Regions from separate parts of the Homo sapiens genome. Here all the other regions are reported to be linked to region 2. The links are microRNA targets in miRTarBase. Many come from high-throughput screens and were not tested one by one. Region 2 holds a microRNA gene; each other region holds the end of a gene's coding sequence.
The links. Region 2 holds the annotated microRNA hsa-miR-3121-3p (UAAAUAGAGUAGGCAAAGGACA, at 2,583-2,604, opposite strand). A microRNA usually pairs through its seed, bases 2 to 8, with sites in the 3' UTR of a target mRNA and lowers its output. Matches are read on the target gene's strand: a 7mer-m8 pairs with bases 2 to 8, a 7mer-A1 pairs with bases 2 to 7 and ends in A, and an 8mer does both.

Region 1 (5,074 bases), not on the chromosome of region 2:
CTAGTACAGCATTTTCTCACCTGTGTTCTGTAGAACTTCAGTTTTATTTGAATACACATACTGCCAAAATAGGTTTAGGTGATTAAATGGGTTTAGGAAATAGTGTCTTAAAGAAAACAAAAGATTTCTTTACTCTAAGACTTAAAGCCTTAACATGCTCATATGCACTGTGCTCATATGCTTGTGAGAAAGGCAGATAGTTGTAGGGTGTAGGTATTACAGAAAGAGGGAAAACGTCTGCAGAACTGCCTTTATAAATGATGCCTAAAGTCATCAATGAAGACAACTTTTTAATAGCCTGGTTAAAAGAAGCTTCACACCATTCTCTTTGAACATAAAGAAGGATGGTATGGGTAAACCTAAGCTTACAATGAAACCTGTAGATTATAGTTCTGTAATAAGCTGTTTATTACAGACAAGGCCTCTCTACTCTTTTGTAAAACAGTTCTTCACACCTTTGTCATGGGAAGGCACAGATCATAGATCAGATCCACAGTGCCTTTCACATGCTCCTTTCTTATCTCCTTGGCCTTTTCCATTCTGGACCACACCTATCCAGAAATAATTTTCGATTTCTTCCACATCTCTGTACCTCTTATGAGTAAGGGTCAATAATGTGGTAGTTGAAGACATGAAGGTGAGGGTTATGTAAATACTTGAACTGTTCCTCCTTCAAGAGCCTAAAAGAAGGAATTAAAATGGTTTCTTTTCATTTTGTTATAGGAGAAAACGCAGGACAAACACCCATGAACATCAATCCCCAACAGACCCGTTTCCCTGATTTCCTTGACTGTCTTCCAGGAACAAACGTTGACTTAGGAACTTTGGAATCTGAAGACCTGATCCCCCTCTTCAATGATGTAGAGTCTGCTCTGAACAAAAGTGAGCCCTTTCTAACCTGGCTGTAATCACTACCATTGTAACTTGGATGTAGCCATGACCTTACATTTCCTGGGCCTCTTGGAAAAAGTGATGGAGCAGAGCAAGTCTGCAGGTGCACCACTTCCCGCCTCCATGACTCGTGCTCCCTCCTTTTTATGTTGCCAGTTTAATCATTGCCTGGTTTTGATTGAGAGTAACTTAAGTTAAACATAAATAAATATTCTATTTTCATTTTCTGCAAGCCTGCGTTCTTGTGACAGATTATACAGAATTGTGTCTGCAGGATTGATTATGCAGAATACTTTTCTCTTTCTTCTCTGCTGCCCCATGGCTAAGCTTTATGGGTGTTAATTGAAATTTATACACCAATTGATTTTAAACCATAAAAAGCTGACCACAGGCAGTTACTTCTGAGGGCATCTTGGTCCAGGAAATGTGCACAAAATTCGACCTGATTTACAGTTTCAAAAACTGTATTGATGACAGTAGTACCAAATGCTTTAAAAACTATTTAACTTGAGCTTTAAAAATCATTGTATGGATAGTAAAATTCTACTGTATGGAATACAATGTAATTTTGAATCCATGCTGGCTCTGATGGCTCTTATTAGTCTGTATTTATAAAGGCACACAGTCCTATTGTAGCTTATCTTTCGTTATTTTACTGCAGAGCATCTAGACAACTTAGTCCCTCCAGCGGGAAAGTAGCAGCAGCAGCATTAGTCACAGGTCTTACACTACAGATCTTGTGAAAGAGACCAGTTTGGTACTAATTATGAGCATTTTATTCAAACAAAAGTTTTTGAAATATTACAACTGGGGATTTAAAAAATTGCAGCTTAGAATCTGATGGTTTTTTTTTTTCTTGATGTTGTTTGTTTGTTTTTGAGATCGAGTTTTGCTCTTGTTGTCCAGGCTGGAATGCAATGGCACAATCTCGGCTCACTGCAACCTCTGCCTTCTGGGTTCAAGCGATTCTCCTGCCTTAGCCTCCCGAGTAGCTGGGATTACAGGCACCTGCCACCACGTCCGGCTAATTTTTTGTATTTTGAGTAGAGACGGGGTTTCACCATAATGGTCAGGCTGTTCTCAAACTCCTGATCTCAGGTGATCCACCCATCTCGGCCTCCCAAAGTGCTGGGATTACTGGCGTGAGCCACCGCACCCGGCCTTGATGTTTATTTTATAAAGCACTGTAATTTTGTAGCTGATGACAAAAGGCAGCCAAATGTTTTTGATAAATCAGTGGCAACTGTATTTTTGTCTTTTGAAATAACTCTGAAAACATCAGGACAACATAGATTTCAACCTGATAGCACACCACACACAGTGAGCTGTTGCTTTTTAAATTCTGAAGCCTTGTCAGGTTTGCTTCCTAGATTTCAAGTGTTTAAAATAATTCTATCTATGAAACTGAAGGATGAAGCAGATCTCTGACTGACATGTAAAAAAAAATGCCCTTTGAGGGTGTATGGTGGAGATAAATGTTTCTGAATTCAGTAAAATTGATTCCTAAGTATATTATCCTAATCCTGTTTGCTACAGTTGGTATAAAAAGGCATGAAATATGTATTCAATACCTCTTATGTAACCAAAACCATTTTTAATTAGCTTTTAAGGACTGAGAGAGCATCATGTTCAACTGGCATGCAGTCTGCCTGCATTGCCAATGAAGTCCTCAACTGTTTAATATTTTGAACTAATATTATTTATAATCTATGAATTTAATCTTTTTTGAAAGACTTTAATAATTTGAGTCTCTGAGAGGATACTTTCAATTTCCATGGGGGACTTATTTGTTGGGGATCTTAAATAAGATTCCTTTTGATCTACCGGAATATACATGTACAGAGTACATTGGATCATGTTGGAAAGAAGGCAAGTGAAAAGGTCAGAGATGAAGTAGCAAAGTTATGGAATATCGTGGAAAGGATACTAGTTGTGAAATGGAAAGAGACAAGTTATAGTACCCCAAAAGCAAAACAAGCAGGAGATGCAAGAGATGCCCCAAAAGGACAAAGCAACAATTTTCTGTTGCCACCTTTATACCGGAAGACTCTGTTGTAGAAGAAAAGAAGGCTTTGGTGCACCTTATGTGGGAGGAGGAGGGGCAGGGCATGCTGATGCTGAGCGTACAGGCAGACAAGAGCGTAGCCTGCTGTTGCCTCCATCACTATGAAATGACTTATTTTACCTGAAGGACCCATGGTTTATGTTCCTCTAATTCCTTTCACTCTCCCTAAGCCCTCTGAGAGAGATGAAGATAGATGATTTTATTGCTACTAAATTGAAGGGAGCACTATTTCTTTTTGTCTTTTGTTAGCAAAAAATTGCAAAAAGAATTGTACATTCTTGCTAAAAATAAATAAATAAATAAAAAATTAAAAAAACAAGGGACCTAACAAAACTCAGCAGTGTTACTGTATTTTTAAAAAATATTTTTATAGACTCATTTTCAGGTTATTAAATGTAAGAGAAACAGATACCCCTCTTTTTTAAAGTAGGTAAATCATTGATGATTTATATTACCAATTTTTAGAAGTAATTTTCTAGTAAGCTTGTGGCATCAGAAAATACTAGAAGATTTTTTTAGTTAAATTAGTTAGAACATTTATGAATGAATATAATAAATATTTTTTCAGAATAAAATATGGACCCTTTGTGTTTACTAATAGATAAAGCCAGATATAATTTTTTGTTTTTAAGGCCACAAAATATGGCCTTTGTTAAAGAACACTAAAGTTAGAAATCTAAAGTTAGAGCAACTTTTTAATGGCTATTTCCTATTATTGTAAGTGTTAAAACCCCTGCAGAATTCTTGATAAGGTGCTATTTATACTATATTTCTTATTATAAGATAACTGTCTTTAGTCTTCTTAGTACTAGTCTTTTTAGTACTAAATCAATCAGTAAACATCATCATTTCACCCCAAAATTTTGTCACAGAAAAGGCGTATCAAATGAAAAATAATTTCAGAGATCTTTCTTTCAAGATATTTTTTCCTGATAAAATACATTGTCTTGAAGTAAATACATTGTCAAAACCTAATTGCAATTCTGTTAAATCTAAGTAATTTTTAGACAGTGTTTCACCGTATTATTTAGGATGTGAAATGCCATTTCTTTCACTGATTACACCATATACAGGAAACAGGTAAAACAGTGAAAACTTTATTGTGCTGGTTGATGCCAACTTGGTTGAAAAGCTCTCTGCAGAAGAAGTGATCTAGACTGACAGAAGTGTTGCTAATTACAAGTTGTGTTCTCATGACGTAATTAGAAAGTAACTTCTCAAAGTACAACTTTTATGAAAAAAATAAGCTGTTAAAAAAAGGAAATCGTAGGTTAATTTAATTGGGAAAATGGGCAATTGACAGAGACCATTTTCCTAACACATATATGTGCTAGTACTTTAACTTTTTAAAATTTTACTTCTACGTTTTGTAATATAAAAATTTCTATTTTAAGTTTAGAATGTTATACGTACCGAAAGTATGCAGCCAAATCGATCAGATCAAACCATTTTACCTGGAGTTTGGTACTGGTTTTTACTTCTCTGAATCTGTATAAGAAAAATAAAGACAATTGAACTTCCACTTGGAGCTTTTGACTTTTCATTATTTGTCTGTGTTCCTTTTACTAGGGGATTTGGGTGGTACTGAAGACAGGCTTATGTAACCCTCCTGGCAGACAATGAAAGAAAGAAAAATCTGCAGGCAAACAATTTCTTGGCTCACGTGCCTGGCCTTCAACATTCTAAATGTTCACAGAATTCTAGTTTCCACTTTATTTACAATGTCCACTGAGGTTTTTAAAGGTGTATATATACACCTTTAAAAATAAAAACATATACCTTTAAATATATATATATCACATCATTGTCCTCCCAACACCCTCACAGATTTGACAAGACCATCAAAAATACAGGATTCTTGCTGGGCACGATGGCTTATGCCTGTAATCCTGGCAATTTGGGAGGCTGAGGCGGGAGCATTGCTTGAGCCCAGCAGTTTGAGACCAGCCTGGGTAACATTGTGAGACCTTGTCTCTACAAAAATATATAAACATTAGCCAGGTATGGTGGTGTAGAATATACAACAAACTCTTATAAACCAATAGAAAAAACAAACAGCCCAATAGAAATATGGATCAATAATGTGAATGGAAAGTTTATAGAAGATGAAACTGGCTG
Region 2 (5,074 bases):
CGCACTTCAGAATAGCAGCCAAGTATCAGATTGACTCTGACAGCTGCTTCTCGGCTAAAGTGAATAACTCCAGCCTGATGGGTTTAGGATACACTCAGACCCTAAAACCAGGTATCAAATTGACACTGTCAGCTCTTCTGGATGGCAAGAACGTCAATGGTGGTGGCCACAAGCTTGGTTTAGGCCTGGAATTTCAAGCATAAATGAATACTGTACAATTGTTTAATTTTAAACTATTTTGCAGCATAGCTACCTTCAGAATTTACTGTATCGTTTAATGTTGTACGTCTGGAATGCAAGTATTGCTAAATATGTTAGACCTCCAGGTTAAAGATGATTCAGCTTTAAGATGTTACCCTTTCAGAGGTACAGAAGAAAACCATTTCCAAAAAAGGTCCTTTCAGTGGTAGACTTGGGGGTAACTTGGTGGCCCCTTTGAGATATCAGGTTTCTTTTTTATCTAGAAATGGCTGCAAGTGGAAGCTGATAATATGTAGGCACTTTGTAAATTCATATTGAGTAAATGAAAGAAATTGTGATTTCCTGAGAATTGAACCTTGTTTATCTAACCCTAATTGATGAGAAGCTCACTACTTGATGGTGTGTACAAACTCACCTGAATGGGATTTTTTTTAGACATATCTTCATGACCTGTTCCCACCCCAGTTCATCGTCACCTCTTTTACACCAAAACGTCTGCAGAGTGGTGTGGTCACGATTCTTTTGTGCCATTTTGGGGTGGAGAGGGTGGACGTGATAAAGCCAATAATTCAGGACTTATTCCTTCTTGCGTTGTGTTTTTTTGCCCTTGCACCAGAGTATGAAATAGCTTCCAGGAGCTCCACCTATAAGCTTAGAAGTGTCTGTATGATTGTAATCACATGGTGACAACACTCAGAATCTAAATTGGACTTCTGTTGTATTCTCACCACTCAATTTGTTTTTTAGCAGTTTAATGGGTACATTTTAGAGTCTTCCATTTTGTGTGGAATTAGATCCTCCCCTTCAAATGCTGTAATTAACATCACTTTAAAAAAACCTGAATAAAATATTGAAACCTCAAAAAACAAAAACAAAAACAAAACTACCTCAAAATAATAAAGGCCATATATGAAAAGGCCACAGTTAACAACATACTCAGTGGTGAAAAACTGAAAGCTTTCCTTCTAAGATCAGGAACAAGGCAAGGATATCTATTCTCATCACTTCTATTCAAGATGGTATCCAGGCCAATGTTAATGCTATCATATCTCCTTAAAGGATATAAAATCAAGCTATAACCCCATCAGCTTGGGTACATGTTCTCAAGACCTTCTGAGGCTGTGTCATGGGTCATGGTCTTCACATTTGGTGCAGAATAAATCTCTTCAAATACTTTGCAGTTTGGCTTTTTTCCCTCGACATCTTCATCTGTATCCTTTGTAACATCCTTTATAATAAACTGGCAAATGTGTTTCCCTGAGTTCTGTAAGCCACTCCAGAACTCAGTTGAACCCAAAGAGGGGGTCATGGGAACCACAACTTGAAGCCAGTTGGTAAGAAATTCTGGAGACCGGGGCTTGTGACTGGTCAAGGGGTGGGAGGCAGTCCTGGGGACTGAGTCCTCAACCTGTGGAATCTGACACTATCTCTAGGCACCTAGTGTCAGAACTGATTAGGAGGATACCCAGTTGGTGTCTGCTGCAGAACTGCTCACATAATGTTGGGGAGAAATCCCCACGTATTTGGTCACAGAAGTCTTCTGTTGTTGTAGTGGTATGAGAGCAGAGGAAAAACACAGTTTGAAAGTTTTTCCTAAAATGGCATCCAAATTGGAAAGGAAGAGGTAAAGTTATCTGTTCACAGACAACAAGATTTTATATGTAAAAAAATCCTAAAGATTCCACCCAATCTGTTATTCAGCAAAGTTGCAGGATACAAAATCGTCACACAAAAATCAGGTTAGGTCTGACAGAGACAGACAATAAATGAATAAGTTTTCCAATATTAAAACCTAAGGAGTATTATGAAGAAAAAAAACAGGTCCAGGAACAAGGTTATAATTTGGAATAAGATGGTTAGGGAAAGCCTTCTAGAGAAGGCCCTTTGAATAAAGACAAAGGAAGTGAAGAAGTGAGTCTTGCAGGTATCTGGAGTAGATTGTTCCAGCCATAGGAAAAAGCCAGTGCAAAGGCCCTATGATGAGGGTATGCACAGAATGTTAGAGTAGGGGTCCCCAACCCCTGGGCTGCAGGCCAGTAGCAATACATGGCCTGTCAGGAACCTGGCCGCACAGCAGGAGATGAGTGGCGGTTGAGCAAGCATTACCACCTGAGCTCCACCTCCTGTGAGATCAGCAATAGCATTAGAGTCTCACAGGACTGTGAAGACTATTGTGAACTGCACATGTGAGGGGTCTAGGTTACGCACTCCTTATGAGAATCTAATGCCTGATGATCTGAAGTCAAATGGTTTAATCCTGAAACCATCCCCCTCCAACACTGGCCCCCTAATCCCTGCTGCAGAAAAATGGTCTTCCACTAAACCAGTCCCTGGTGCCAAAAAGGGTGGGGACTGCTGTGTTAGAGAACTTAAAATGTTTCTGTCCTTTGCCTACTCTATTTAAGGTACAGGGTGTCTTAAATAGAATAGGCAAAGGACATAACCATTTAAGAAGCAATAAGACAAGGTTGTTCATGAGACAATCATAGCTTCTATTGGCGCCATTCATTGACTCTCTTAAAGTGAAATAGACAATTGGGAAGAGATAGCTATGGTCCACTTGGTAATTATTTGCTGTGAAATAAAGACTACTAATTAAGAGTTACGTGGTAGTTCAAAAAAAATAAGTATAGTTCTTTTTTCTTTTTTATTTAGACTTCTTTTTAAAGCAAGTTTAGGTTTACAGAAAAATGAACAAAAAATAGGGTTATCTCATACCTCTCACATGTATACAACTCTCCCACCCACTGCCCCCATTACTAACATCTTGCATTGAGTGGCACATTTGTTACAGCTGATGAGCCTATATTAATACACTATTATTAATGAAAGTCCATAGTTTACATTAGGGTTCACTCTTGTATTGAACATTCTATGGGTTTGACAAACATATAATGACATGTACCCACCACTGCGGTACCATTCAGAATAGTTTCACTGCCCTAAAAATCCCGTACTCTACCTATTCACCCTTCCCTCCCTCCCCACTCTCCTCCATACTCTGAACCCACGGCAACTAGTGATCTTTTCACTGCTTTGTTTTACTCTTTCCAGAATGTCAAATGATTAGACTCATACAGTATGCAGCCTTTTCAGATTGGCTTCTTTCACTTAGCATTATGCATTTAAGGTTCCTCCATGTCTTTTCATGGTCTAATAGCTCATTTCTTTTTAAAAATTTTAAATTATTGTAAACATAAAATTTACCATTTTAACCATTTTTGGTATTTAACTCAGTAGTGTTAACTATATGCTCCTTCCCCTGGCCCAAAACACAAGATTTTTCTTGACTCTTTACCGTAAATGGGATTCTGGGAGATAAAACCTACCAAAGTGGAAGGCCCTACTAAGACTGGGGAGGGGCCGGGTGTGGGGGCTCACGCCTGTAATCCCAGCACTGGGGGAGGCCGAGGCGGGTGGATCACAAGGTCAGGAGATCGAGACCATCCTGGCTAACATGGTGAAACCCCGTCTCTACTAAAAATAAAACAACAACAAAATTAGCTGGGCATGGTGGTGGGCGCCTGTAGTCCCAGTTACTCAGGAGGCTGAGGCAGGAGAATGGTGGAACTCAGGAGGCAGAACTTGCAGTGAGCCAAGATTGCGCTACTGCACTCCAGCCTGGGCGACACAGCGAGACTCCGTCTCAAAAAAAAAAAAAATACTGGGGAGGAGTTTTTGACTCCCTAGTCCACACTCAGCCTCAAGCAATTCATCCATTACCATTGAAGTGTTTCTACCAGTTTATGGCCCAAGCATCTTCTGTTATCTTGGTTATGATTCTCTGTATTCACCTGTCTCTCCAGTTTTGGGGATGGCAGTTTGAACTGGTACCTCAATCTCTGATGGATCTAGAACAGTCTTTGATTTTCAGTTTGGTCAGATTACTGTTATTGTTAAGGAGAGGAGTGATAACTTGCAGGTTCTTCACATGTTGAGGCTGAAACTGGAAGTTCAGTGATCTTTTAAAGAGATTTTAAAATTTAAAAAAAGTCTTTAAATTTACCCATATATTTAGCACTTCCAGGACTCTTCATTCCTTTATGGAGGTCCAAATTTCCATCTTATATAATTTTCCTTTCATGTGAAGTTCCTTTAAAATTTACTATAGTTCAGTTCAGTTGGCAATGAATTACCTGCTTTTGTTTATTTGGAAAAAGTTTTTATTTATTTATTTTTATTTTTTAGATGAAGTCTCACTCTGTGGCCCAGGCTGGAGTGCAGTGGTGCAATCTCAGCTCACTACAACCTCTGCCTCCTGGGTTCAAGTGATTCTCCTGCTTCAGTCTCCAGAGTAGCTGGGATTACAGATGCCCACCATGACACCCGACTAATTTTTGCATTTTTAGTAGAGATGGGGTTGCAATGTGTTGTTCAGCCTGGTCTCGAACTCCTGACCTCAAGTGATCTGCCCATCTCAGCCTCCCAAAGTATTGGGATTACAGGCATGAGCCACCAGATCCAGCCTTGAAAAGTCTTTATTTCACGTTTACTTCTTTTTGTATTGACATGAGATTCACATAAAATTAACCAGTTTAACATGTACAATTGAATGACATTTAATACATTCACAATATTGTGCAACCAACTGCATCTAGTTCCACAACATATTTGTTATTCCCCCCAAAAAGCCTTGAACCCACTAAGCAGTCACTCCCCATTCCCCTCTCCCCCAAACCTTTAGCCTTGAACCCACCAAGCAGTCACTCCCCATTCCCCTCTCCCCCAAACCTTTAGCCTTGAACCCACTAAGCAGTCACTCCCCATTCCCCTCTCCCCCAAAACCTTGGCAACACCAATCTGCTTTCTGTCTCTATGGATTTAACCATTCTGGATATTTCATATAAATTGAATCATACACTATGTAATCTTT
Region 3 (5,074 bases), not on the chromosome of region 2:
CTGTCTACCATAAATAGAACTTGATGCTTTCACTTTCCAGGAGAAGCTGATTCTGTCGGCTTTCTCTTTGCCCCTCCAACTTCTTAGTTGGGCCTATTCTATGCTGCTACTTCAAGTTACTCAAATGTGTTTTGTCTGGTGTTATTTTTTTCTCCAGTGTTTTGGACCAAGACTAGATTTCCTGAGACTTTAAATACGCAAGACAAATGCAAACAAAATCTGCCAACATACCCAGGCTGCTTTTCAGGAGTGAATCACTGAAGCGCATTTGGATTTCCTATAACACTACTTTCTTTTGGGAATGTACAGCCCTCCCCCAGCTCCCCATCCCCCATCATAATGTAAACCATTCTAATAGAAAATATGGATGTTTTGGCTGGGGGTGGTGGCACATGCCTGTAGTCCCAGCTACTTGGGAAGCTGAAGCAGGAGGACCACTTGAGCCCAGGAGTTTGAGGCTGCAGTAAGACATGATGGCACCACTGCAGTCCAGTCTGGGTGACAGATGACAGAAAAAAAAAAAAAAAAAGAAAAGAAAAGAAAATATGGACATTTTATTTCTGGACTTTATCCTTAAATGCTTAGCTTTAGAATAGTGCACAGGTACATCCTTAATAAAAAGTAAATTTGAAAAGACAGGAAAGGACTGTGCTTTTCTCTTCCATTTTACCTTTTCATTCTGAGACCACTAAGGTCTTTGCATTAAGTAGGTGACGTGAACCCTAGTGACCACTGCCCACCAAAATGCCCCTCATCTCCAGCTCTGTCAGGAGTACCTTTAGTTACTCAAATGGAAATATCTCAGTGTAATGATGGGGCTACAACATATCCAAAGTATAGATGGTTCTCTCAGGGCTGCTGGGGCAGCTTCCTTTAGAATCCTCTAGAACACTATTGTTAAACACTGGATCTCCTCTTGAAGTTTAGTCTGCATAACCTTTAACACTTAAACATGAATCAGAGTATCTATATAAATGCAAATTTTCATTTCCCTTTTATAAAATGCAATTTTCAAGCACATGCTAATTCTGGTGCACAATGAACCCAGACAAATTTGTCTTCAGCACAAACTCTAACGGCCGAGGTGCTAGATCAAACCACCTGTGACCATTTTTGTAGCTTGGGACTGGGATATTTTAAGATTTCAGGCTAGTGATGATTACAGGGTCACAGATAGTGGCAAAGGTAAATCTGGTTCCTCATTTTCCCTCTTGCCACTTTGTTTCCAACAACAATGGAGCAAAAGGTGACAGTCCCATTTTGTGCCAGTTGAAAGCTGAGTTTGGCTTTAGTACCTATCATACTGCAATCATGAACTGCTGTGGGTTAAAAAAAGCTTGTGATGTTGAGGGTGTGAAATCAATTGTCAATCCCAGCTAAAGGATGATAGCCACAGAACAGCTTTATTGTCATGAAACTAAAGGGGGACTTCATCAGGAGTGTTAGAATGGATGAAATGAGGTTTCTTCCCTAACTTAACATTCTGCAGAAAATTCCTGATTCAGGTAAAAAAAGAATGAGATTAGTATTACATAAACTGTGAGTTACTTGAAGGGAGATGGTCTTAAACAAAGTAATCTGTTATAAAACTAACATCCTTTAATGGGAAACCCTGACCCAGATACAGCTCATACAATGCTTTCTGTCTGCAGCTTGGCCTCCTCACCACACATTCCCTCCCAACAAAGCATAACCTATACCCCAAAACACTTTTGGCTATTGTTAGAATCATACTGAGCTCTCCTTTAGGGAATCAGTTCATAGCAACCAGATATTCCCTTTTTGTTCATTTTCTGATAATAAAAACTGCAGTTTTTAAGGTTGATGAAATAACAATTCTGTGTTAAATTGTAAGGACACTGAAAACCACTAGCATTAAAGTAGGAATTGTGCAAGACATTGGAGCCTTGATTAGGTATCATGCACTACAGTCAATAAAAGAAATAATAGGAAAACAAAATGTGCACAAGATCTGAGGTCTTTCACTTTGCTTTCATACCCTTAATCAGTTTACATCTTATGCTTTGTGGGGCAATCAAACCAAATGACTTTTACAATTTCATCCGTTTTAAGTGGTAATGTTAAAATAACTCACTTCGGCCTAAAATTACTATAATTTAACTTAAAAAATCAAAATACTTATAATACTAAATGATTTTAGGAATAAGAATTTGATTTATAACATTGTCAGTTGGACATTTATCTAAACATTCAATATACAAAGTTATAAAGAAAAATACTTCTAAGATATTTAAGAAAATGCAATATAATAGATCATAAATTAGGTGCAAAAACAAGACACTTACAGACATTTCCAGTATATACATCCATTTTCAAATATTACCAAAGTGTAAACATAACTTAAGATAATCATCCTTCTATTTCTACTCTTGAATACAGTGAAACTTCCAGTGTGATCCAGGTCACTTTTTTCCCAAAGATAAGCAAAAATGGCAAAAATTTACAATAGCAAGCACTAATATTACCAGATTTTTACTAATTTAGTGTTTTAGTATTTGAAAAGTTTTGCCAAATTGTATCACTCATTAATAGTGGCTTCTTATTTCTCATGATGTGAAAAAATAACAAAGCACCAGACATCTCAAGACATTAATAGAGTATCCAATACGGCAGTTTCATTATCATACCCCTAATGAAGACAGACAGAAAAACATAATGGTGACTTTGATAACTGTAAAACACAATGTTACTTCATGTCAACGTTTCTGAGGATTGAATGAAGGGTCTGTACCTAATGACAAAAGAGCTGACGCATAACCGACAATACTCTGGCAATGAAAAGAAAACAGGCCTTGGGGGTAAAACAGAATTAAAAATGTCCAGTTTAGATAATTTCTGAATTCAGATTTTCAGATAAAAAAAAATCACACTGTTATTAAAATACAAGATGGGGCTACAAGGGAGTTCCCTTAATCTGTTACACTCAAAAGCCTTGCCGAGGCTCTAAATATGGAATACTTCTAGTGGAAGATACGAGATGCTGGGAACAGAGCAGAGATTCCCATAAAGTAAAAGAAGTAAAATACTGTCCAAGAATTCATGTGGCCTCAAGTCTTATTCTGAAACTTGTCCTTTGGAAAGTGGATAACCTCATTTTTAGAGTCAACGCAGCAAAGAGAACCAGATACATGAGCATAAAAAACAAAAAACCCTCATCACATGAAATTTCTCAAAACGAGTTTATTTTCTCCTTCTTCTGCCCCAGTCTCCTGCACTTGACTTAGTTTGGTGAAACATGGAAATCCTTAATGCTGGCTTAAAATTAGTATAAGTTCCTCCACTACTAAAGTATACCTATGCACTGCCTTAAACAAACTTTTTCTGTAAAATTGAGAATCTTTGAAGTATGGAAAGGAATGGTTCGGAAAAACCATTCAAAATCTCTCTAAAATGTTAACTGACAGTTTCCTCTAACTGGTATTTCTATTTTTCTTAAAAGTACATTTGTTAAAATACTAACTGAGCCCACCTGGGAAATCTTGAGTAGAAAATATGTGATGAGTTCCTGATTGTGACATAGGCAGGCTGAAGACCAGCCAGAATGTTCCCCAGGAGAGGAAACCTGAAAATGGTGGTTTCCTTAAAAATCAATTTCCTGTTCAATTTCTTGGGTTAGGTAGGGGGAAGAGGAACTGTGTTGTGTTTGCCAGTGTTGCTGAAATGCTGAACACACAGCAGTAGCAAGGTCAACAGATCCCAATATCCCATGGCTGCATTAATGTCTGATTTTTTTCTTTCTTGTTCAGCCGTATCTAGAGGATAAATATTACCCTCAGAACCCCAAGGTAATACCCACATCCACATTCTTAAGGCTTTTGCTTTTTTCAGTGGTTAACAAATAGCTATAATTTATTTTCTTTCTTTTTGATGCCTAGCAAGCAGAATGACTTGCTTGCCTTTTCCCTTAGTAGGTAACTACAGAGCAGAGCACCCATGTTTCCACAGCGGGGTGGTCTCACTGTCCAGACTGAGAATTAAGAGCAAATCTTTCCCACACATTGGAGTAGGTGTTGCAGTCCTAGAAGTTAAGTACTGGTCTCAGATCTCATGGCAGGGTGCTCTCTGCCATGCAGACATGTGCAATTGCCATTTCAGGATCCCACACTGAAAATTCACGGCGCTCCATTAACAACACCAGGGTGTGTCATGCTCTTGGGTGGGGTCACACTAGTTCTCCAAGTGACAAAACACACCCAACACAACACAAGATGTTGGTAAGTTAGAGAAGAGCAAAACACAGCTACTTAAATGAAATCTCTGGTTTGTTAATGAACCAAAGGTGGCTTGGGATTATTTTAGTAGTTAAAATTAAGAGTGCATTCTATTGCAGAAAATGCAGTTATTCAACACACAGTTCCTCAGCCGGCCTAGAGCCGCATTACCCTTATCATTTAGTTTCTTTTTCATCCTCTGGAGGAGAGCAGGGCAGGAAGAGGTGGGGACTTCTCTTGGAGCATCTCCATCATCTGTAAGAGGGTATGTGTTACTGCTCACCAGCACCCTCGGCTGTAGTTGACGTCATCTTTTCTGTCTTTTTGGACTTCCTCTGCATTTGCTCTTGCTCCTTTCTCCTTAGCTTTTCTCTTTGTTTTTCCATTTTCTCTTGGGCCTTCCGAGCCTTCTCTAGAGACATCTTCATTTCCTTGAGTTTCTTTTTGACCACTGCTCGGTCCTGGGATGCTGTCATTCCAAGAGCCTAAGAAAGAAACACACACACAAACTGAATTTGAAAACCAATGAGCCCTCTGATGGTGTTAACATACCATATATCCAAGTTCGTAAACTAATTCAAACATTGAAGAGGTAAGAACAGAGGAAGAACTAGTTACATTTGCTAAAAACCAACACACTGGGGGCTACCCTTTATTTTTTCTTTTGTTCTTTGAAGTCCCTTGCAAAGTATACCCTAAAGCTCATTAATTAAATGCTTTCCAAATGAGTAATTAATGGGTGAATGAATGGAAAAAGGGCACAATTCTACTTCTCCAACCTTTGGGCTGTAGGCATTTACGGGTAAAGGTATTGCTAAACTCATCAATATTTTCAAAGCATA
Region 4 (5,074 bases), not on the chromosome of region 2:
CTGTAGTCCCAGCTACTCGGGAGGCTGAGGCGGGAGAATGGCGTGAACCCGGGAGGTGGAGCTTGCAGTGAGCCGAGATCGCGCCACTGCCCTCCAGCCTGGGCGACAGAGCGAGACTCCGTCTCAAAAAAAAAAAAAAAAAAAAAAATTCTGAATTAATACCGCTGTCCCCAGCACGGGGTTAGATCTCTGTTGGACTCTCACTGGGCCCATTTGGGGCTGGCACCAACAGTTGCTGGTTTTACTTGGAGGTGGGGGATGGTCATTGAGGTAGGTCCTCGCAGAGACCCCTCAGAGAGAAGAGAATTCTGGAGAGAAGGAAAGAAGCGCTAGCTATGAAGGGTGGGCGGGGCTCCAGGCTAGGTAATTAGCAAGGGATGCAGAGGCACCCGGGAACCCAGGAACCAGTAACCAGTAACCAGGGGAGCTATCACCACCCCTGGGTTGAAGGGCGAGGGGAGTACGTGGTGTAACTCAGTGCAGCTGGGAGGAGGCACAGGCCAGGTGTGAGCATCGCAGAGGTGCAGGCAGGGTTAGGGACGCTGAGGCACCCAGGAACCAGCGAGGGGCAGTTCCCAGGCTAAGGCTGAAGGGGCGAGACAGGGAGCTGTGTTACCTCGAAAGCTGGAATCCTGGTGAGCAGCCCACGGAGGGAGGCAACTCCTGCCAGCAACGGGCACAGCGGCTGGGATGCCAGGGAAGACACCCCCTACTTCTTCCAGCGGGGAGCCTGCATTCTCCAGCTTCACCCAGTGGGCAGAGGAGCCCAGCTGCTGCGGGGCAGAGCAGGGAGGAAGGCTGAGAGTGGCCCCCGGCTACATCTTCCCCCAACCCTTGGAGCAATGAACACCTGTGGTGAGCCAGGCCCTACGCCGGTGGAGAAGGCAACATGGAGCAGGCTGAAGCGTCTGGCTCGCGCATGCACACGTCTATACCACTAGCTGGTCCTCTGGCCTGAGGATGGGAGCTCAGGCAGCCAAGGGCTCTTTGGACTGTTCATTTGATGTCCTTGGTGAGGCCTCTCACCCCCGCAGTCAAGAGCCCTCCTGTCCTTTTTCCATAGCGCCTGCTCTCCGTGTGACCTGAGGAAGGCGCCGCTGAGTGACTGACACTATTTTTTTTTTTTTTTTTTTGAGATGAAGTCTCACTCTGTCACCCAAGCTGGAGTGTAATGGCGAGATCTCGGGTCACTGCAACCTCCGCCTCCCAGGTTCAAGTGATTCTCATGTCTCAGCCTCCTCAGTAGCTGGGATTACAGGTGTGGGCCACTATACCCGGCTAATTTTTGTATTTTTAGTAGAGATAGGGTTTTACTACATTGGCCAGGCTGGTCTCGAACTCCTGACCTCAGGTGATGTACCCGCCTCGGGCTCCCAAAGTGCTGGGGTTACAGGCATGAGCCACCGCACCCAGCCTTCTCACCTGTCTTAAAAAGACCTGGCAGAGGCCTCTGGAAGGAGGCCACCAGGGCATAGAGAGAGGTGGGGCAGGTAGCAGAGGGAGCTGGATGGTGTGGGGACGGTGGGGGCTGGCAGGGGGCAACTCCAGACACAGAGTCTCTGGAGAGCTGGTTTCGGGCCGGGCCCATGGTGGAGAGGCAGAGGACTGGCTCGTGGACATCCTGGATTTCTGTCAGCATGTGGAGGCAGGACATGCCTGGGCTGAGGACAAGGATACCCCTGCTGAGCTGGGGGACCCTGAAGGGTGACTGGTTTAGGAAGAGGGGTGAAGATAAAGCATTTTTTCTTTACTTTTTTTTTTTTGAGACGGAGTCCTGCTCTGTCGCCAGGCTAGAGTGCAGAGGCGCAATCTCGGCTTGCTGCAACCTCTGCCTCCCGGGTTTAAGCGATTCTCCTGCCTCAGCCTCCCGAATAGCTGGGACTACAGGCACACGCCACCACGCCCAGCTAATTTTTGTATTTTTAGTAGAGACAGGGTTTCACCATGTTGGCCAGGATGGTCTCGATCTCTTGACCTTGTGATCCACCCGCCTCGGCCTCCCAAAGTATTGGGATTACAGGAGTGAGCCACCGTGCCTGGCCAAGATAAAGCATTTATTTTTGGACTTGTCAAGATTGCCTCTTGGAGACATCTAGGGGGAGGAGGCAGCTGAAGTGTGGGTCTAGGAACCTGGCATTGACCAGCAGCACAGCATCACCTGGAAACTCGTCAGGAATGCAGATTCCCAGGCACCACCTAGCGCTATGGCGTCAGTATCTGCGTTTTCACAAGACCCCCTAGGTGGATGGAAGGCACATTCCTTGGAGTAGCTCTGGGCTACAGCTTTCGTAAGGCCCTGCTGAACAGCAGCACTGACCTCAGTCTATGACACGGAGTCTCAGCTGGGGAGCGAACTATCCCCCCACGGGACACGTGGCAACATCTGGAGACACTCTGGTTGTCATAAATGGGGAAGGGGTGCTACTGCTGGGTAGAAGCCAAGGATGCTGTTCAATGTCTGGCAATGAACACAACAGCCCCCCTGCAACGAAGACAGCTCCGGCCCCAGTGGCCAACAGCAGCCAGGATGCTGAGCCCTGGTCCTCAGGAAGTGCGCACAGAAGGTGGCGAGGGCATCCCGGCACTGTCTTGAGCCTCAGATTTCCCGCCTGGGCTTCGCCCCCTCCTTGGACCTTCTCCCGCTGGGCGCCGAGAAACCACACAAAGGCCAGACATTGATGAGTCACTTACAGTTTATTTTTGCCTGAAAGTATTTCACATCTCTTTGTACACAGCTACGTGACAGTAGTATTAACCATCAGGAAAAGCAACAGTGCGAGGGGAAAGGTGGCATGTCTTGTTTCTTCTTTTTTTTTTTTCCTTTTTTATTTTTTTTATTTTTATTTATTTTTTTATTTTTATTTTTTTTGCTTCTGCTTCTTCCCGCACCAGAGTGCTGTGAAGTATGGGACCGGAGGGGGGAAAGAAAAGAAAACCAAACAACTAAAAACAACAACAAAAAACAAAACACAAAACAGAACACACTCACACACACACGAAATAAAACCTGGCACGGAAAATGAATTAAGACTGGAACCCAGTTTCTTTTTTTTTTCCTTTTTTAAAAAAATGAGGGCATAGTGGGGGGGTAATAAAGTCTACCTAGCAAAGTATAAAACGACAAAAGCATGGTTTCCATTGAATAAGATTAAATATATATAAAACAAGTACACTGACTGTGGGGTAGGTTTGGAGGTGCCGGAGGAGGGAAGTATTTGTGCTAAACCAACAGAAAAAAGGGCTGGGGGGAGAGGGGGACCCCAAATAAACCATCAACGGGCTGTTCTGTACAGTGAGGGCTTATTAAGAAAAAGCCGACTGTTTATAAAAGAAACGGAGGTTGGTTTGTCTTCGGAGCAGGTGGGGACAGAAGGAGTGTCTTCGTTGCAGTGGTCACATGTGGGGGGTGGCGGGGGTGGGGTGGGGAGGGCAGTCGGACTGGCGGAGGCGACACATCTCTCTTTTCCCAAGAGACCATGCAGAGAGGCGGGCATGCATGGGGCCACGTGAAGCACACGATGGCAGGGGGAGCCCAGGGGTGACAGAGTCTCCGTTGGGGACAGGGGACAGCAAAGGCTGACAGGGACAGGAGCTCCCTGGGGGTGGGGAACAGCTCTTTTACCGGGGTGGACTGGAGAGGGCGGGTTAGCAGCCTCCCATTCAAGTCTAAAAGGTGCCGAGAGAAAGAGCTTGGGCCTTAGTGGAGCAAGGGGATCTTAATCCCTCCTCCTCCAGCCTGAGCCCCACCTCGTGAGGGAGTTGGAGACATTTGGAAATCAGAAACGCACAGTGGTGGGTGGGGGAGTGGGCAGACAGACAGACAGACGAGAGAGCATTAGCATAGAGAATCCATTACGAAAAAGCAATTAATTTTTCCAAGGAGGTTCTTTTTTTTTTTCTTCTTTTTGTTGTCTGTTTGTTTCCTTTAAAAAAATAACAATAATACTACCACTAACCCGACAGCTGACTGGTTTATACAGTACTACACGCCAGGTGGGGGCGGGAGGGCGGTGGGGTCGGGCGGGGGGGACGGTCAAAGACTTCATAAATAAGAGGCGGGTCCCAGACCCGCAATTTGTCAACATGTCTTAAATAGGTGCATTATTTAAATCTTATGTACAACAAGAATCACTTTGCATAGCAATGGTGAGGACACAGGACGGGTGCAGTGATGTGACTGGGTCTTCTTGTCCCAAGGGCGGGGGGCGAGTTCGCAGCTCAGCTCGGAGCCTCTAGGAAGAAAGCATCCTTCGTCCGGCCCGCAATGGTGGCATCGGAGTTGACTTTTCCCACACGACGGCATCAAACACAAAGGCAAAGAAAATCCACAAAGGGTCCCCCACCCCCCAGCCCACCCCCAAACCCCTCCCCGACCCGCTGATGCTCCTCTTGTTGCTACAAAGTCCACTTTAGATCAGGTCAAAGGTTCCAATTACGAAGCTAAAAGAATTCGGCGGGGGCTGGGCGTGCTTGTGGGCCCCCTCCCCACCCCCTCCCCCCTCCGCCCCCAGAAAGACTCCCCATCTATCTCACAGCCAGGGCACCAGGGTGGGACCCCAGGACCGGCTGCTCTGCGGCTGTTAGTCAAGAGTTATTTTGTCGCGGTTGCAAACGTCTTCCTGCCTTGAGCTGGGAGCTTCACCAGGCTTCGGTGTAGCGGACGTCCACTTCCTTCAAATTGGGAAGCTTGGCCTGGGGGTGGCAATAAGAGTCCTTGTCACGTGTAGGCCATTCCCTTGCAGAAGCTGCCAGTGCCTGGCTCCACCCGCATTGCCGGCTGGGGGTCTCTGCCACCCTCTCCCCACCTTGGTGCTGTGGGCTACCTGGGCTCTTGGAGGGGTGGGTGGCCTTAGGCAGAGAACAGAGCAGGTGGGATGTGCCCTGGCCCCGGAGAAACCAGGCAGCGGGGTTCCCATGCCCCCGCCTCAGATGGCCTTTGGTCTCTGTCTTCGCAGGTGGAAGCACTGGGGTTTGAATCCAGGCCCTGCCACTTGCTGCTGCGTGACCGTGGGCAGATAACCCAGCCTCTAGGGGCCTCAGTTTCTTCCTCTGTGGGCCCATCTGACTCTAGTCC
Region 5 (5,074 bases), not on the chromosome of region 2:
CCTATAGTCACCCCTACTCAGGAGGCTGAGGCAGGAGGATTGCTTGGGCCTGGGAGTCTGAGGCAGTGAGCTTGATCAAACCACTGCACTCCAGCCTGGGCAACTGAGCAAAACCCTGTCTCTAAAAAAATAAATAAATAAATAAAAGATTAAAATGTCTAAAATATTAATAGTGGTTATCTCTGAAAGTAGTATTGCAGGTGAATCTTTTTCTTCTACACTGAATAAATATTGTAAATAAGTAAAATGCATTTTTTATGCTCTAAAATTGTATCTTAATACTCAAAACTACTTTCCTAATGTTGGATAAATGTACAAAAACCTACTAAATTCAGCTGCCTGTGTGGCCACAGTCATTTTATTGTTTTTCCAGAATGTTCCAAAATAGCTCTGGAACAAGACCAGTGGGACCACCAGATAGCTATCTAGCCTCACCCTTCTTCCCATGCACATGAAGACCAAGCCTCCAGCCTGGCTTTGGCAGAAACCTCTGTGAGACTCAGGATAACAAGGCCTTCTCCTTCTCAGCTGGGGAAAGGAGGGGCCTTATGTCATAGCGCTCTCTCTCTCTCTCTCTCTCTCTCTCTCTCTGTCTCTCTCTCTCTCTCTCTCTCTGAGTCAGTTCAGAACATCCTCTAAAAAGGTGCCTTGAGCAGCAGTTGCCAAGACAAAAGATCCCACCTCAAGGGTGGAAACTCTATTTGCAGTTTTGTAGACACAGGTGTTCTTCCAGGCGACTTAAGACCTACAGTGTGGGGCTGTATTTGGCCAGGAATAGCTCAGAAGGCCTTCCCCCCCGAAACCAGCTCTTGAAGCTTCAGTGTATATTTTAACTATATTTGGCAATTCAAACCAAAGAGGTCAGTGGCTTAGCTCAGGAGAGGAAAAAGGTTGATTTATAATCCCTTCTTCAAACCAAGACCAAGAATTTAAAACTCAGTTCATTTATTTATTTTGCACTCATTGAGCTTACTGCTTGAAGCAGCTCTCCTTCCCTATTCTACCAGCCCTCATGTAAATCTTTCAGAACCACAGGTGTGAATCACCTATACAAGCTATCCCTGTTTTAGAGGACATTTGGGGACATTTGGCTGGAGAATCTAAACGTTAAAATTATCCCACTTTACTCCATATGCCTTTAGAGGATCAAAATAGCCTGTAGCATTTGGGTACAAATCCAGGCTCCACCGCTTATTATTCACTGTGTAACCTTGGCTGAGTTACTTTATGTCTCTGAGGTTGTTTCCTTATCAATAAACAGATAACACCTACTTCACAAGGCTGTTGTAAGAATTAAATGAGATAAGGTGTATAAAGTGGCAAAGAGAATATCTGACACCAAGCAAGTGCTAAAAAAGGAATCTGTTTCCATTCCTCCCCATCACTCCCCTTCACCCTTGGCTGTTCAGCCAAGGTGTTGGCTTTTCAAGAAATTGCCTGATACCCCGTGTTTGATTACAAATGTATGGTATCATTCCCACAGCAAGCAACAGTAGCTAAAGATAAAAGCTGTGACTACTCCTCAGCTGTGGACAGGTCGAATCAGCTCACAAATGACTCATCACTGTTGATAAACAATGTGTTCTTGGCATCAATAGTCCCTATCCTGATAAGCTTCAGCACCTCAAAGAGAAGAGCCCGGGGTTTGATGGTGACCTTTGGTTAATCCTGAACTCATACCAAACTGGTCTTAGGAGGGTCTCTGTCTCCTCGCACATGTCTCCAGTCACAGGATTCTCAGCGGGAAGGACTCCAGCTGAGCAGCTGCCTCTTTTGTCTTAGGGCTGAACCATCTCCTTCACTTGCCTTGGATTCCCTCAAGTCATAAGACTTCCTCAGCACAAGGCTAGACGCCTGTTCCCTGCTCACAACCGCCCGAAGCTTGTGCCCAACCTGCCTTTGGCAGCTTTGTTTGCTGGCTGACGCTGTGCCAAGGTGAGGTTTGGCTGGAGTGCTTTGTGGCTACAGGACAACCTTGGCTCAAGGAAAGGAGTAATCTTGCGCCACTGTCTGCGAGGCTTAAGTGTTTGCTGCTCTCTGCAGTTTCTGTAGCCCCTTCAGACCACCCAGAACCCACTCACTGGCACAGAAATTCCATGACAGGAATCTTGAGTCACTCTTTCATTCATACATGCCTGGTACCTTCTCAGTGCCTGGCACAGAGTTCCCACAAAGTGAATCTTTTTCTGAAAGGCCCTTGAGGACAAGAATGGTCTGTAGCTGCATTTCTAACCTCCTCAATTCTGGCACACCTCACACAATTATTAAGATCAAACAGGACAATAAACTATATGAGATTGGCATTGTCAACAGCCAGGTGCCCAAACTGAGGTTTTGTATGGTCTTAAGGAAATTCTATGTACTCGAGTTTACTTTCTTCTAAATTGAAACTGCTTTGGAATGAGGTATCTCTGGACCCCAGAGTAGGGCCCCTCTCTCTCAGTGGGTATGCAGTCCTCTTCTGCAAGAAACTAAACATCCTAGCCCCTCGGAGGGGACCCTGTAATGTGCAAAAGCCCCAGAAGGCCGTAGGCTACCCTGGAAACATTTCCATTCTCCAAACTCACCTTCAGGTTTTCTTCACCAGGGAGGTTTCTGAGATCACCTACAAGCACTGACATTAAGGCCAGGGAAGCTTTTTGGAAGGGACAAGTAGCTGGTCTCCATCTTGGGTCTTCAGGATATTGGATGAGACAAACAGGGCACCCTGAAATCAAAATCAGGGGTCCCTCTCTTTACTCTTCCCTTATGTCCTAACTGTTCCTATGTCCCCTGCCTTTCTAGTCACTCAAGGGGGGCTTAGTGTCCGTCTATCGCCGGAACTGGGGTCAACCTTCTCAGAAGATAAGGCATATAAAGAAAGCAAGGAGGAAGGAAGGAGAGAGAGAGAGGAAGGCTGGAGAAAAGTGAAGAAAAAAATGAAAAAAGGCTTGGGAAGGAGGAAGGAAGAGGTGAGCGGCTAGGGGAGGCGGAACAATGAAGGTCTCAGGCCGTCGGAGGCTCACGGTTCCGCCGGCACGTCCGTCCTGCCCGCCTCCAGCCGGCAGCTGCACGCAGCGCAGCGTGTGGGCGCTGAGTCACTGTCCCAGAACAGGGAGCCGCGGTGCAGGTCTGGGGGGTGTAGGAGGACGGCCCTGGTTGGCATCTGCAAACTGTTTCTTTCTCTCTTTTTTTTTTTCTTTCTTTCCTCTTTCATTAAGGCTGTGTGCTGACTCCCACGTAGGAGAACTTATTAAACCGCACGTACTGCTTGGCGGCGCTGGGCCTGTCTCAGCTGCCTGCAGGGGGCGCTACAGCCTCGCCCATGAGCCAGCGGCCCGCGGGCGCTCAGGCCCGGGCAGACCCGGGGTTACTAGGGGTTACTGGGTTTTCCGGAGGTGTCCCCACGCATTGCTAGGGCGGCTTGGAACTTTAACAACCGCGGCAGGCAGGGGGAACGCCTCTCTTAGAAGGCCTCAGAGACCACCCCAACTCTTCGAAGCTCGCTTTCGCGCCGGGTTCTGTGAGCAACCCTATAAATCTAGGACTCCGTTGCGCAACCCGAGAGTCCAGGCTCGCCAACCCACTAGGGCTCCCCCTACCCACCCCCCGCCGGCCGCCACGCCAGGCGGTGACCTCGGGCGTCTCCGCGAAGCCCTGATTCGCACCCAGGACACGTGTTCTGCGCGCCCCACACAGAGAACAGAGCTCGTGACAGCTCAGCCCGCTCAGAGTAGGGCCAGCACCTGCACGCGCCGCTGTCCCACCTTCCCAAGCCCGGCGGCGGGACCCCAAGGCTCCTGGGCGGGCCGGGACCAGGGCACCCTCCCTTCCTAGACGTGAGAGCCGAGCCGAGAGAATGAATCAGCATTGAGACAGTTTATTGGTTTGCTGTTCGCATATCACCCATTTTATGTAAATAGATTATACAGAGACTCGGTGTTTCCTTCTTCCACACAGGAGGTAATCAGTCTTTCTCTTTCATGCACACAAACACACTCACATTCCACGCGGCGAACAACTTTACACCTCGCTGAGACATTCACGTCTTAAAATAGGGGAGGACAATATAATTGCTTTTAAAATGCCCTTAATACAATATATAACGTACAAAAATATCTCTATATTTGAAGTTACAAAAAAAATCTTGACAGCAACAAACTTAAATATTGATAGTTACCTCTGTATGTACAACACGCATTGCACTTTTCCTCTTTAGGTTTTGGAAAGTTCAAGTAATAGTGAGGCTTGCGCCCTGGTGGGGTGACACGCCGTGAGAAATCAGTTTGTGGGCGAGCACGGCTGTGGCTCAGACCCCTGCTCCGGGGGTCTCAGCATTCATTTCTCAGTTTCTCCTCTCCTTAAGCCTGGCAAACACTCGGATTCTTCTGCACCCCGCCCCCTGGGGCACTTGCACCTGAGCAAGGCTAAGGAAGCGAAGCCCCCAGAAGGAGGGGCCCTTGCAAAGCCAGAGCTCGCCGCCGGACGGTGCCTCCCGGACTCAGGGTCTCCGCAGGGCTGTCAGAGCCCGGTCCCCACACCGCTCGGGAAGTCCTTCGTCCCGGGAGGCACCAGCGGGATGCTTGCGCGACTATTCCTTGTACCATGGGCGCCTAAATCCTAAAGAAAGTGGGGAGCACTTCCACTCGGGGGGGCTGGAGCCCCGTGTGCTTGTGGCTTAGAAGACACCAGAGTCCGACCCGGGCCGGCCTCGGGCAGGGAGCGCCGGCGCCGGCGGCCGTAGCCCTGGGGGCTGATCTTGCTCCTGGGGGCGACGTTGTCCTTGTCCTTATCTGTGAACTGGTAGATCTGGTGTGCCAGCTTCTGCACCGTGCACGTCCCGAAGCGGCAGCCAAAGCTCCGGAGGCCCTGGAAGTTGTTCATGCTCTGGCGGTAGCGCTTGACTCGGATGCGGGCGGCATCCGGACTGCTGCGGGCGGGGGGAGGGGGAAGAAAGGCAACTTGAGACCCCATCAAGCAGAGCTTTGGCCCCAACACCGGGAACGGGAGCCATTCTAGAGCCAGAGGGAGCTGGAAACTGCTCGCGCCATCTGAGCTGCGGTCCAGCCCCGACGATCCCCCGGGCCAGGGGAGT
Region 6 (5,074 bases), not on the chromosome of region 2:
TGCAGTGGTGCGATCTTAGCTCACTGTAACCTCCGCCTCCCGGGTTCAATCGATTCTCCTGCCTCAGCCTCCCCAGTAGCTGGGATTACAGGCACATGCCACCATGCTTGGCTAATTTTTGTATTTTTAGTAGAGACGGGGTTTCACCATGTTGGCCAGGCTGGAACTGCCAACATTTTCTTCATCCTAATCATTAATCACTTCTTCACCCACAAAATGTCCTTTGCTAGAACATGAGTTCCAAGTGGAGACAGATCACAGAAAGGGGAGGAAAACTCAGAAATCCTTTGTTATGAGAACTATCGAATTCTCCTCTTGCCTTTGTTCCCCTCAGGTAAAGAAAAAGATTGCTATTTTTCCATCAATATCATACCACAAATATCCACCTATATTTATGTTGCCCTCAAGAGTTGTAATTCTATTATCATCCTACTCAAGAAAAAAGGTAGTGAGAAACAACTGGAAGTTACTGGTATTTTGTTATTACTAAGTACCAGGGCATTTCTTGGGCATTAGGGATGATTTATTTATTATTTGTGTCCTTGTCCACTGTAAAAAAGGGAAGCTTAAAAACACAAGTGTGTGTTCAGGTTCCCAGCCTGAATACAAATTGTATTCAATTTCCGAGTGAAATGTGTCCAGACAGCAGGAGAGATCTACTTATCTGTGAGACTGAAGAGCCTCCTTGGAACGAACTAATCCTGAAAGAAGAACTACTTGTGAAGGGCAAACAGTTTAGTTCAAGAAAGCAAGGCTATGCAATACCACAGCAAACTTCATTCAATGAAGACTGAGCTCCAGCCATGTCTTAAGAGCGGGAAGAAAAAGCAGCAAACAGGCTCTATCTCCACAGGCTCTGGGGACAGTGACGGCTGCAGTGGCTCCTTCAGGATGCTCAACCCTGGGCTCTGGAACACCAAGCACAGGCCTCAGCTCTTCCATGATGAATACCTTTTAAAGGCATCAGCTGCAGCATCTCTGTTGCATACAAATTCACTAAGTACAAAAAAACTCCTAGACTTTTGGGCCCATTGCTTATTACATAAAATTGTTTCCAGCAGTAGGGTTTAAGACAAAACACAAGTGAAATAAAATGTACAAGTTTGTTCCATAGAAACACTGAAAACACGGTTATGTCCTTCTACAATTCAGTAAAACAAACACTGCCACAAACACCCTCAGGTTCACAGTTTAGATTTCATTCATTCAATAATTATTTTCTAAGTACTTTCATTACTGGGGATGCAGTAATGAATAATAAGGTCCCTGTTTTCTTGGAGCCTCTGTTCCAGCAGTGGGGCAGGGGAGACAGACAGCAAACAAAATAAATCAATATACCACGTTAGTAGTCACATGGTTACTGGGTAGGGAAAGGAAAGCTTCTGCACACCTAAACCCCTTAAGAGCAATTTGAGGCTGCTGCAAATATCACGGCCTCTTTTAGGGGAAGATAAAAACTCTAAGTTTTATATATATATATATAAATAGAGATGGGGTCTGGCCATGTTACCCAGGTTGGTTGATCTTGAACTCCTGGCCTGAAGTGATCCTCCTGTCTTGGCCTCCCAAAAGTGCTGAGATTATAGGCATGAGCCACTGTGCCTAGCCCTAACTTATATTTTTAAAAGTAACTTTTTTATAAGTTGCAAATTTCTAGTCAGACTCTTAAAAGTTCACAATTCTAGGGAGCTGTTCTAATTTTTAGTTACAAGGTATATGAATAAGTACTTTAAGTCCATACTAAAGGAATAAGACCTACATCAGGTGGGTACATGTGCAGGTACATATATGAATATATGTTTACAGGCTCATGTCAGAAGTGACACAGGTACATATTATATATAATGTTAATCTGTATTATATATTAATATAAAATTATTTCTGGCTCTAATGATACAAATCTTTCATATAAATTCTTAGATTATATCTGGTCTCTCTAAGAACTATCAATATGCTAATTTTCAGGCGGTTAATTGGTACCCCCAAGTGCATGGTATTTCTAAGTAAACTTCTGTTCAGAAAAAATACTTGTCACTTACAGCTAAGCATATACTGATAAAGCAACATGTAGAACATAATGCAGAGTGGAATGCAACTGCCTTTTCATGTCTAGAAGACAAGGTAAAAACGAGGTGTTTTTTTGTTGTTGTTTTCTGCTGCTGGTGCTCAGCGCTTGTTCACTGAAAACCACAGATGGTCTTAAAGCGTGAAGCCTTGTGCTCCAACTTCCTAGAGACCTAACAATTTCACTGGTGTCTTTTAATGTTAATGTCCGTATTTTCCCTTCTCCACATCCTACAAGGGCATTGCTCCTTTTTAGGCTATCCAGTCTGAAGTACGTTTTCCCAGTGGTGAACACAGGGCCAGAAGTCCTGGACAGCATGATTGAGTTGTGGTAGTCTGAAAAGCAATGGTGGCAGGCAGTCATGATATGCTCCCATCGCCTCTTCAAAGACGCAAACGTCCAAAGTGACAAGGCTTTTCCAAAGGTCAGGCCGGCCGTGCACGGTGGCTCACACCTGTAATCCCAGAACTTTGGGAGGCCGAAGCGGGTGGAGCATGAGGTCAGGAGTCCAAGACCAGCCTGACCAACATGGTGAAACCCCATCTCTACTAAAAATACAAATACAAAAATTAGTGGGGTGTGGTGGTGGGCACCTGTTATCCCAGCTACTCTGGAGGCTGCGGCAGAGAATTGCTTGAACCCGGGAGGCGAGGTTGCAGTGAGCCGAGATCAAGCCACTGCACTCCAGCCTGGGCAACAGAATGAGACTGTCTCAAAAAAAAAAAAAAACAGCCTCTGGTCAGAAAGATGAAAATGTGTCACCATGGGGTTCTCCGGCAGAGAGTGGGTTCTCAGATGAGATTCCTGGGTCTCCTCAATGACCCACCATGCTCTGCTTGAAGCACTCCAGAAGCCAGGCGGCAGGTCTGGGGACATGCACGGTGTGGCCTGCAGACACGTGTATGTGCCAGGCAGGATGTGCCGAGCATCACAGCCCTCCCGAGGGCAGCTGCCTTCAACCTTTTCTTCCACCAGGATCATCTGTTTTTTCAGCAGAAATGACTACTTAAACCAGACTGGCCTTAGAAATGGCCGCTCCCCAGCACGTTCTAACTTTGTCTCTTTTCTTTCACTGGTCCCTGTCGGAACGGTGCTGTGAGAACACTGCCCTAGAGGCCACCAGAATTCCCAGACTTCCTGCCTATTAAGGATATCCATGGGTAATCCCCAGTAGCAAGTAATTTAAAACTAAGTTGTAGGTGCCTTTGGAAAGCATTATGTAATTTCTTAAATTGGGTTTTTCTTCCTAGTTACATTTTTCCCCCTCAGTTCAATGATTTGTATTTTAACGCCAAGCAGGCTGAGCAGAAGGGGTATCTGAATACTGCTAGACGAGAAGCCAGCCTGGCATTCAAAGTGACAGAGACCACCCATAACAAGAGTGGGTTGATCACTGAGAGCTGATTAGGTGCTCAGGCTTCCAGTGGAACATTCTTCTTCCTCTTGCACCAAAGCCAGCGACCTTTTTCCTAGGGAAGCATTCTTCTTCTATGTCAGTCTCCTATCATTGCCATTTTCTGGTCCCAAGACTTCTTGCATACACTATCTTCTGGCATGGCATGTATACTAAAACTTGTACACACTCTCAGATCTTAAAATACAACAATTATTTCTCTAATTAGATAGTTACCTATTTTCTATGACTTCAGTGATTGCAAATTCCAGCAGAAGCTACTGTTCTAATAAGTTTTGAATCAGAGGTCTTAATGCATAGTAAAAGATTGCCTGGCTTTAATCCTAAACCATGTAAGGGTAGATACTGTGATGTGGAAGCCAATGTTCTCGGGATGAATGAACAGAAGTCCCTCAACATTTTTAGGGATCATCTTTCTGGCATTTGCAGCTGTTTTCTAGGGTAAGCTACTTTCCAGAAAACCAAGTGATAACGTGTTCAGACTTTCCTAAATAAATTTCCTAAGGGCCTACCCTCAGTGTTAAAAGAAAAGACCAAATGTTTGAAATATCTCCCGAGGAAGAATGAAACAGAATGTTAGGAATGGCGAACAGACAGGTGTGGCACATGCAGTAGCCAGCAGCATCAGTGATGGACAGGAACACAGACGTCATCCTTAGCCACGGTGCGCAGCTAGCACGGCTGCACTTAGGCTCACAGGAGGAAGACGGGTGGCCACTGTTTTGGTCTGACTCATCTCATCCAATGCAAGTCCGGTGACAGGCTTTTTCATGATTTTACACATGGAAAAGAATGTAGGAAACGTTTGTCTCAACTCTTTTAATTTCTTTTTTTAAAGAGTCTCACGCTGTCACCAGGCTGGAGTGCAGTGGCGTGATCTCGGCTCACTGCAACCTCCACCTCCTGTTTTCAAGCGATTCTCCTGCCTCAGCCTCCTGAGTAGCTAAGACAACAGGCGCGCGCCACCACACCCGGCTAATTTTTGTATTTTTAGTAGAGATGGGGTTTCACCACGTTGGCCAGGCTGGTCTCGATCTCTTGACCTCATGATCTGCCTGCCTCAGCCTCCCAAAGTGCTGGGATTACAGGTGTGAGCCACCGTGCCCGGGCCTGTAATTTCATTTTTAAATAGTTAAGAGCTTGCCCGTATTTTTAGGACCTATGATCTGAAGATGTTTTTTCTTTCCCTAAACAGGGAAACGTCCTCTCTGTAGTTACTGAGAGGAAGGTGAGGACCTCAGGCTCCCAGTGTAACTCCTGCTGAAAAACCTTATACTTGACACAGTTCATTTCTGGTCATACAAAGTCCTGCTGTAGTTCTTCACTTGTTTTACTTTCGCTTTCATCTTCATTAGAATAATTTCCTGAATCTTGGCTAGTTTGGGAACTGTATTTTTTATGATCTTCATCAGTTTGATTAGTTTCTTCTACTGTAGCAATTGTGCTTATATTTTCAATTATGAAACATTTTTCGATTTGTTCCTCAGAAGTTGAAAGCAGAAGATTCTTCAATGGCTGTTCAGAGAAATACTAATTTAAAAAAAGGGAAAGAGTAGAAATCAATTATTTAAAATAATAAAAATTCCTTTTCTAGT

Region 1: miRTarBase lists WWTR1 as a target of hsa-miR-3121-3p. Seed matches in the 3' UTR shown: 7mer-m8 at 1,104-1,110, 7mer-A1 at 1,390-1,396, 7mer-A1 at 3,712-3,718 and 7mer-m8 at 4,340-4,346.
Region 3: miRTarBase lists PPP1R9A as a target of hsa-miR-3121-3p. Seed matches in the 3' UTR shown: 8mer at 11-18.
Region 4: miRTarBase lists CMIP as a target of hsa-miR-3121-3p. Seed matches in the 3' UTR shown: 7mer-A1 at 4,090-4,096.
Region 5: the mRNA of ADM is a reported target of hsa-miR-3121-3p. Seed matches in the 3' UTR shown: 8mer at 3,896-3,903.
Region 6: the mRNA of IFNAR1 is a reported target of hsa-miR-3121-3p. Seed matches in the 3' UTR shown: 7mer-A1 at 4,605-4,611 and 8mer at 1,482-1,489.

What each region holds. Positions count from the first base shown.
Region 1 is chr3:149,516,639-149,521,712 of GRCh38, reverse strand. WWTR1 (WW domain containing transcription regulator 1) reads left to right here. Exons shown (of 7, transcript NM_015472.6): 7 at 724-4,478. The coding sequence ends at 908. Among named protein-coding and RNA genes, the nearest start is that of TM4SF4, 44 kb to the right of the region's middle.
Region 2 is chr1:180,435,741-180,440,814 of GRCh38, forward strand. It overlaps MIR3121 (microRNA 3121), which reads right to left and starts at 2,650; the gene lies at 2,574-2,650. All of the region lies in intron 3 of ACBD6 (acyl-CoA binding domain containing 6), which reads right to left. It also overlaps the pseudogene VDAC1P4.
Region 3 is chr7:95,289,734-95,294,807 of GRCh38, reverse strand. PPP1R9A (protein phosphatase 1 regulatory subunit 9A) reads right to left here. Exons shown (of 20, transcript NM_001166160.2): 20 at 1-4,717. The coding sequence ends at 4,505. Among named protein-coding and RNA genes, the nearest start is that of PON1, 32 kb to the left of the region's middle.
Region 4 is chr16:81,709,364-81,714,437 of GRCh38, reverse strand. It overlaps CMIP (c-Maf inducing protein), which reads right to left. Exons shown (of 21, transcript NM_198390.3): 21 at 2,676-4,692. The coding sequence ends at 4,639. Among named protein-coding and RNA genes, the nearest start is that of PLCG2, 67 kb to the left of the region's middle. RefSeq lists enhancers at 172-852, 853-1,534, 2,217-2,899.
Region 5 is chr11:10,306,167-10,311,240 of GRCh38, reverse strand. ADM (adrenomedullin) reads right to left here. Exons shown (of 4, transcript NM_001124.3): 4 at 3,844-4,909. The coding sequence ends at 4,600. CAND1.11 (a long non-coding RNA gene) reads right to left here and starts at 2,928. Exons shown (of 4, transcript NR_103765.1): 1 at 2,568-2,928. RefSeq lists an enhancer at 3,058-3,327 and silencers at 3,828-3,927, 4,265-4,559.
Region 6 is chr21:33,355,251-33,360,324 of GRCh38, reverse strand. IFNAR1 (interferon alpha and beta receptor subunit 1) reads right to left here. Exons shown (of 11, transcript NM_000629.3): 11 at 461-5,009. The coding sequence ends at 4,776. Among named protein-coding and RNA genes, the nearest start is that of IFNAR1, 33 kb to the right of the region's middle.